Regions from separate parts of the Homo sapiens genome. Here region 2 is linked to region 1. Evidence: fine-mapped expression QTL. Tissue or cell type: whole blood. Region 1 holds a variant in brackets; the other region holds the start of a gene. All regions are shown on one strand. Distances are between the middles of the regions. Region 1 overlaps CAMK4 (calcium/calmodulin dependent protein kinase IV). Region 2 holds the start of CAMK4 (calcium/calmodulin dependent protein kinase IV).

Region 1 (2,909 bases):
CACACCAAACCCCTGGAGCGACTGGTAACCACTGCACATGGAACAGAGCCACTGCTGCACCAAGATAACTGCAAATCACACCAACAAAGCTGACAATCCCCAAGGCACCTGTGCAACACCTGCCACCATCTTGCAGCAGGACCACAGACAACAACACAACTCCACCCACAACTCCCACCAAACCAAGTCAACATCACACCAAACTACATTTAAAAAAGAGAGCCAGTCATTCAAAAATTGGGTAGCAAAACTGTCCACGGAGAGAGAACAATAAGGGCAAATGCCCTAGGAAAGTAGTAAGCTTGGCAGTTTCAAAAGACAGAAAGGACAATGTTCCTGGGAACTCATAAACCAGGGGAAGAATGGGAAGAGGTGAGGTGGCTTTTTTTTTCTATGAGAATGCTTTATTAGGCAAAACCACATACTATGAAAGTGCTTTAAAATGCAACAGGAGGAGACGTGAAGACACAAAGAAAAAGTACATAGTGACACGTGGCTATCAGAATACACTAAGTACAGAATCCACACTGCTTCCGCCCTTTACAGAGTCTAGAGCCTATTTTGGGGGTTTTGAGAGCCACAGTTAAGAGTTTGGAATTTATTCTGAGCATACTGGAAAGCTATGGGAGGGTTATACAGCTATCAATCAGAACAATTTGGACTGGTTTACATTTTTTAAAGTTTATATTAAAAATGGATTATAGCAGGATGTCCAATAAAGAGATTATTTCAATAGGCCATTTGAGATGTAGGGTGTTGAACTGGATTAGGGTAGAGATGAAATGGACATGGCAATGATGATAAGGTTTGGAAGAAGTAGACTGCTGTGGGAGTAATAACAGAAAAGAAATGGAGTTGTGAAGAAATCTGGAAATAAAAGTAGAGAAGTAAATAACAGTATTTCCCAAAGAGCTCAAATTATTTATTGTCCCTTAACAGCCTTCACTGGCCACTCAGTCAGAGCCCTGACCCAATTCCTATCTTTCCTTCATTTTCCTCATTCCATCCAACTTTACCATTAACAATAATTATGATGTATATAACATAAAAGTTCCAGTACTGCCTGAAGATCACCAGCTGTATTTATGAAATATATTTCACATAATAGGTATGGAAAACTGATGAAACACCTTTCCACAGAGTGAAAAAAGGAAAATCACCTGACATAGTCAAGATTTATCATTGAAAGT[G/A]TTCCCTTTAGAAAAATGGGGACATGAACTATGATCTCTTTTCGCTGTCTTACTACTTCCTTTCTCTTCAGCTATCTGCCCTCTGGCTTAGTATGATTCACTTATATTAGAAACAACTCAGCCAGGGGGTTAAATTATCACTTTATATGTTGCCAAAAGACTCACTCTAAGGGATACTTCTATGACAAAGAGAAAGCAATGATACAAACCAATCAAACCAAAGTATCTGTCTGTGTGATAAATACATTCACCTTTAATAAATAGTAAGTCAGAAGAAAGAAAAGTAGTAATTGCAAAGCATTTATTTTGAAGTGTATTTCCGTTTTTGTTCAAAAGGACAGAACCTGGGAGACAAATTGTTCACAATTTTAGCATATTATTACAATCTATGTATAAATTTCCTTAATAATAACAACTGCCCTATTGCATAACCGATTTCATTGTTATTGATGGAATATAAAAAGCCACATGAAAGCAAGTAAAGTGGGTCATTATTTACTTTTTAGTTTATATTTATGCATCTGGAAAAGATGGCCATAAAATCCCCCTCAGATTGATTCAACTTTAGACAGGCTTCTTCCTAAGGCCTCTGACCTCCTTTTTAAAATGTGTTTCCTTTAGAAAACTTTCCATTATAAATTCTTGCTCTGCTACTTTAAGACATAAATATTCTACAACCCAGGAATGTCTTTCTCAAGAACCTGGGAGCCATCCCTTTTGACATGTAATCAAGAAAGATAGTACCCTCTCAGCCTCTGTAGGAGAGTGGGAGCCTAACTTCAATAAGCACCAGTGGCCCAATCATGTTGATCAGCCCTCCACTAACATCCTCCCGCAATTTTCCACCAGCTCACCCCAGTGCTTAGAAACTCCTCCCCCTTTGGTTTAGTGGAGTTGAGTTCAATCCTTCTCCTCTATTGCAATTTTCTTGAATGTCTTTTTTTTTTTTTTTTGCCCGTTTAGCTAGTCTAGTGCAATTTTTCTTTTACACATCAAGTGCCAGAATGAGGACCTTAAACTGTGTCTCTACTGCCTGTGAAGGTATGTCAGCAGAGTGAGGGGCTCAGAAACCCATGTAAGGTGCTAGTGAACGAACACAAGGATGACTCTGCAGACCTAAGACCTCAAAAGTATTAAACTCTCAAAGATAAGGACTTCTCCTTAATATCCCAGGCTGTGTACCCCAAAGAAAAGAGAAGGCTTGCTGCACAAGTTTTGCCTCTGGACAATGGCTAAGCATGTAAAGAGGAAAAAAAAATACTTTTAAGAAGATCATAGTCCCCAGATTGGCACATATCCCAGCCCCAGAGAGCCTAAACTGGTTCACAAGGGGAGAGAAGCAGTAAGGAACAGTGAGTCATAGGCAGGGCCCCATACCTGAAGGGGTAAGAGGCAAATTCTGCTTGTAATCAATGCATAAGTCATTAGAGAATACAACAGAAGTAGGGATGGAGGGCATTCTCTCCAACTTTTGCATGATAAACGTGACACTAAAATTTTTAAAAAGATGGCTCTTTTCCAACTTTGGAAGCAGAAAAAGTCATTGTGGTGACCTGGAAAAAAAAAAAAAAACTATTAGGGTCAGAGAAGGAAACTATAAGGATATTGAGGTGAGGAAACTGAAGATAATTATTGCTATGGTTGTTTGTGATTACATGAGGCTATCCTCGAAACCTCAGAGATCCGGAAGGGAAATACCTAGAGGAAGGAGTAGAGCCC
Region 2 (2,909 bases), 38 kb after region 1:
TTACAAAAATCGACATCATTGTCCTTTCATTTCCACCTATATATATAATAGATCTTCAGATGAATACTGAAAAACTTGATCAAAAATGGATGTTTATGTATACATTATTCAGTGCTCAAATACTTCAAAACATTTTTAACAGTGACAAATCACTGAATTTTCATTCAGAAGTTTGCCTATTTTACACATCTATATTCAATGAGCCTTCAATAGTACTAGCAAAGTGGGGGGAGAGTGGGCAGTGATCATTACATCTTCCCACTAAATACCAACATCCAGAATCCTGCTCTGGATCCTCCAATGACTTGAAAAAATAAAAAGGCTGTTAGCAATACTATTTCCAGCAAAAAGAGAATGAAAAATGAAATTGCAAAGGAGTAGTAAGTACAGAAGCTGCAACTTGTCAACCGTTGAAATTACATCTTCAGATTCCCTATACTAAAGAGCCTGGATCTAAAATAAGTGTTGAAAATAAATCTCCTTACCTATGGATAACAGAGAGAAAAGACAAAAAAAAAGGAAGTAAGGGAAAGAAAACTATAATTTTCAATGGATACAAATACGAAAGCATATGGAATCATGCAGAAGGCCAAACTGCTACCTGTTTGGATCTTCAGAGGAGGGATAGGGGACATATCTGCAATCCTAGGGAGATGGTCTGTTGCATATATAATTTAAATAAATCACTCCAGCCCATGAAAGAAGGGAAGCAGCAGCATTCTCACTAATTACCACTGCCTGGATCCCATATGCTGCTTTCTCTTTAAAGCCACACTAGTTCATTATTCTGCCTTCAACTCTCTTAAATGATTCATTTCTCCCTTCACTCCTGAGCAGACTCTGCAGGGAAGCTAGTATTTAAGTTTAATTTCTCGTGTCACTTGCTTTGGAGAGCTTGACGAGGGGAAGGAGGAGGAATCTAACTTAATAATTCTGTCTTGATTTGGAGGGGCACCCTCCGGCCCCCACCCTAAACAATAACTAGACAAACAGGACCCTCTGGCAAGCTATAATCGTGAGCAAAGATATCAATTGGGAAAGCAGGGCCCACGTGCGGTGGGAGCTGTCACCCAAGGGAAGTGGCAGCCTGCGAGAAGGAGGGAAGGTGGGAGGGAGTCGGGCTGATCCTACAGCTGCACCGGCCTAGGCGCTCTGGTGGGGTGGGAAGGACTCGAGCCGCACCTGAATGAAGGTTAGCTCTCTCTCAAGACACTAACTAGGTAGGGAGAAATCGAAGGGCACGAAGGCAGGCTCCCGCACCCTCCGAGCCGTCGCTGCGAGAGGGACAACCCCCAGTGCACGCCGCGGGCTTCCCCAGCCGGAGCCCGCGCCTTACCGTCCCAGCTCCGACTCCACCTCGAAGAAATCGCTCAGCGCATCCCTGTTGGAGCCGTCGATCCAGTAATCCGGGACGAGGCTCGCGGTCCCCGGGGCCGCACTGGCGGTGACCGAAGAGCAGGACGAGGCGGAGCAGGAGGGCACCGTGACTTTGAGCATCTTCGCAGCGGGACTCCGGAAGCCGCCGCCGCCGCCGCCGCCGCTGCCCGAGCGAGAAGCCGGCCGCCAGCCGCCGCCTGCGAACGCAGGAGCGAGAGAGAGGCGGCGTCCTTCACGCGCGCACACGCCCACCGCCGCCGCCCGCGCTCGCAGGGACGGTGGGCGGGGAAGGGGGCGAGCCTCTGCGAGAGGGCGCGAGGGGGAACCCGGAGTCGCCGCCCGCTGGAGGGAGACTAGCTGCACCGCTGAGGAGAGAGGCTCCCTCCCCCTCGCTCCTTCCCTCCTCACCCGCCCTCCTCCCGCGCCGAGCCTTTCCCGCCGCCCTCCCTCTTTCCTTTCTCTCTCCCAGGCTGTGGCTGCCGCGGTGCCGGCTAGGGCGGCTCCGGATGCTGGAGCTTGGGGAAGGCACAAGGACCCGCGCATCATCCCACGCGCCCTCCCGCGGGGACCGGAGCTGGAGGGAGACCGTGCGCAGCGGGACGCTGCTCTGGGATGGCGGGCGCCAGGCGTACCCTGGCAGCACCTGGGTCCGGGCGGCCCCGCCGGATAGCGAGAGAGGGACCTAGGTGGTGGTGGCGCAACTCATCCCTCCTTGAGCGCGTCTCCGTGGCGAGTCCCTCCCACCTAACACCAGCTAACCAGCCATCCTCTGTCAAAGCTTATATTGGTGGCCGGGGAGGGAGTACTGTGGTCGCCGATCCCTCAGGGCTCCTGTGCCTGGACCCAGTGAGAGCTGGAGGAAAAGGAAGCGCCCAGGTCCACACTGACCTGACTCACCTTTGAGTGAAGTCTTCAGTTGGAATAAATGCTGTCGTCGCTGCTGGTGGCACTGCCTCCTCGGCACTGCTGGAGCTCCTAAAAGAGGAGATACTTGGCTGTGTCGAGTTCAATCTCAGCATCTGAAGTGGCTCAGAATTACAGTTCTAGAAGGGCCTTGTGGAAGCCAACTAGTAAACCCTCTGCCTTAAGGCAGGACCTGTCCTCATTCATGACAGGGAAGACTGCTACATGTAAAAGCCCTTTTTCTCTTCCCAAGAGATGTATCCCATGATAAGCATTCTTATGTCCTGTCCATCAGCTGTCATGGCTCTTCTTCTCAGTATTAAACATACATCACTTAAACTACCCTTGAACTTTTTTCTTTTCAGATTTCAGCAAAGACGAACAACAATTAGTCATGTTCTGATACATATCTATGACAGTTATTATACCACAACTCATTTCTGGCTAAATAGCTCCAGGCGCTTTCACCTTACTTCACAGGTGTTACTTTTGGCCTTTTTTTTTTCCTGAGTTTCCTCCAACATGCGCTAAACTCTTCCTAGTAAGTCTCCATTCCTGATAGCACCAACCATTAATATGGTCCAATATTTTAATCTAATTTATGGATTTATTATTCTTAAAAGCCTGCC

The links. PIP is the estimated chance that this variant, and not a neighbour inherited with it, causes the effect.
Region 2: CAMK4 starts here. The variant in region 1 is fine-mapped to the expression of CAMK4 in whole blood (TOPMed, PIP above 0.99).

Annotation. Positions count from the first base shown.
Region 1 is chr5:111,261,415-111,264,323 of GRCh38, reverse strand. The region is part of intron 1 of CAMK4 (calcium/calmodulin dependent protein kinase IV); the gene reads right to left. Among named protein-coding and RNA genes, the nearest start is that of CAMK4, 38 kb to the right of the region's middle. The variant G/A (reference allele first, on the strand shown) is at 1,191.
Region 2 is chr5:111,223,072-111,225,980 of GRCh38, reverse strand. It overlaps CAMK4 (calcium/calmodulin dependent protein kinase IV), which reads right to left and starts at 1,597. Exons shown (of 11, transcript NM_001744.6): 1 at 1,337-1,597. The coding sequence starts at 1,497. RefSeq lists enhancers at 1,359-1,408, 2,369-2,468 and a silencer at 1,519-2,008.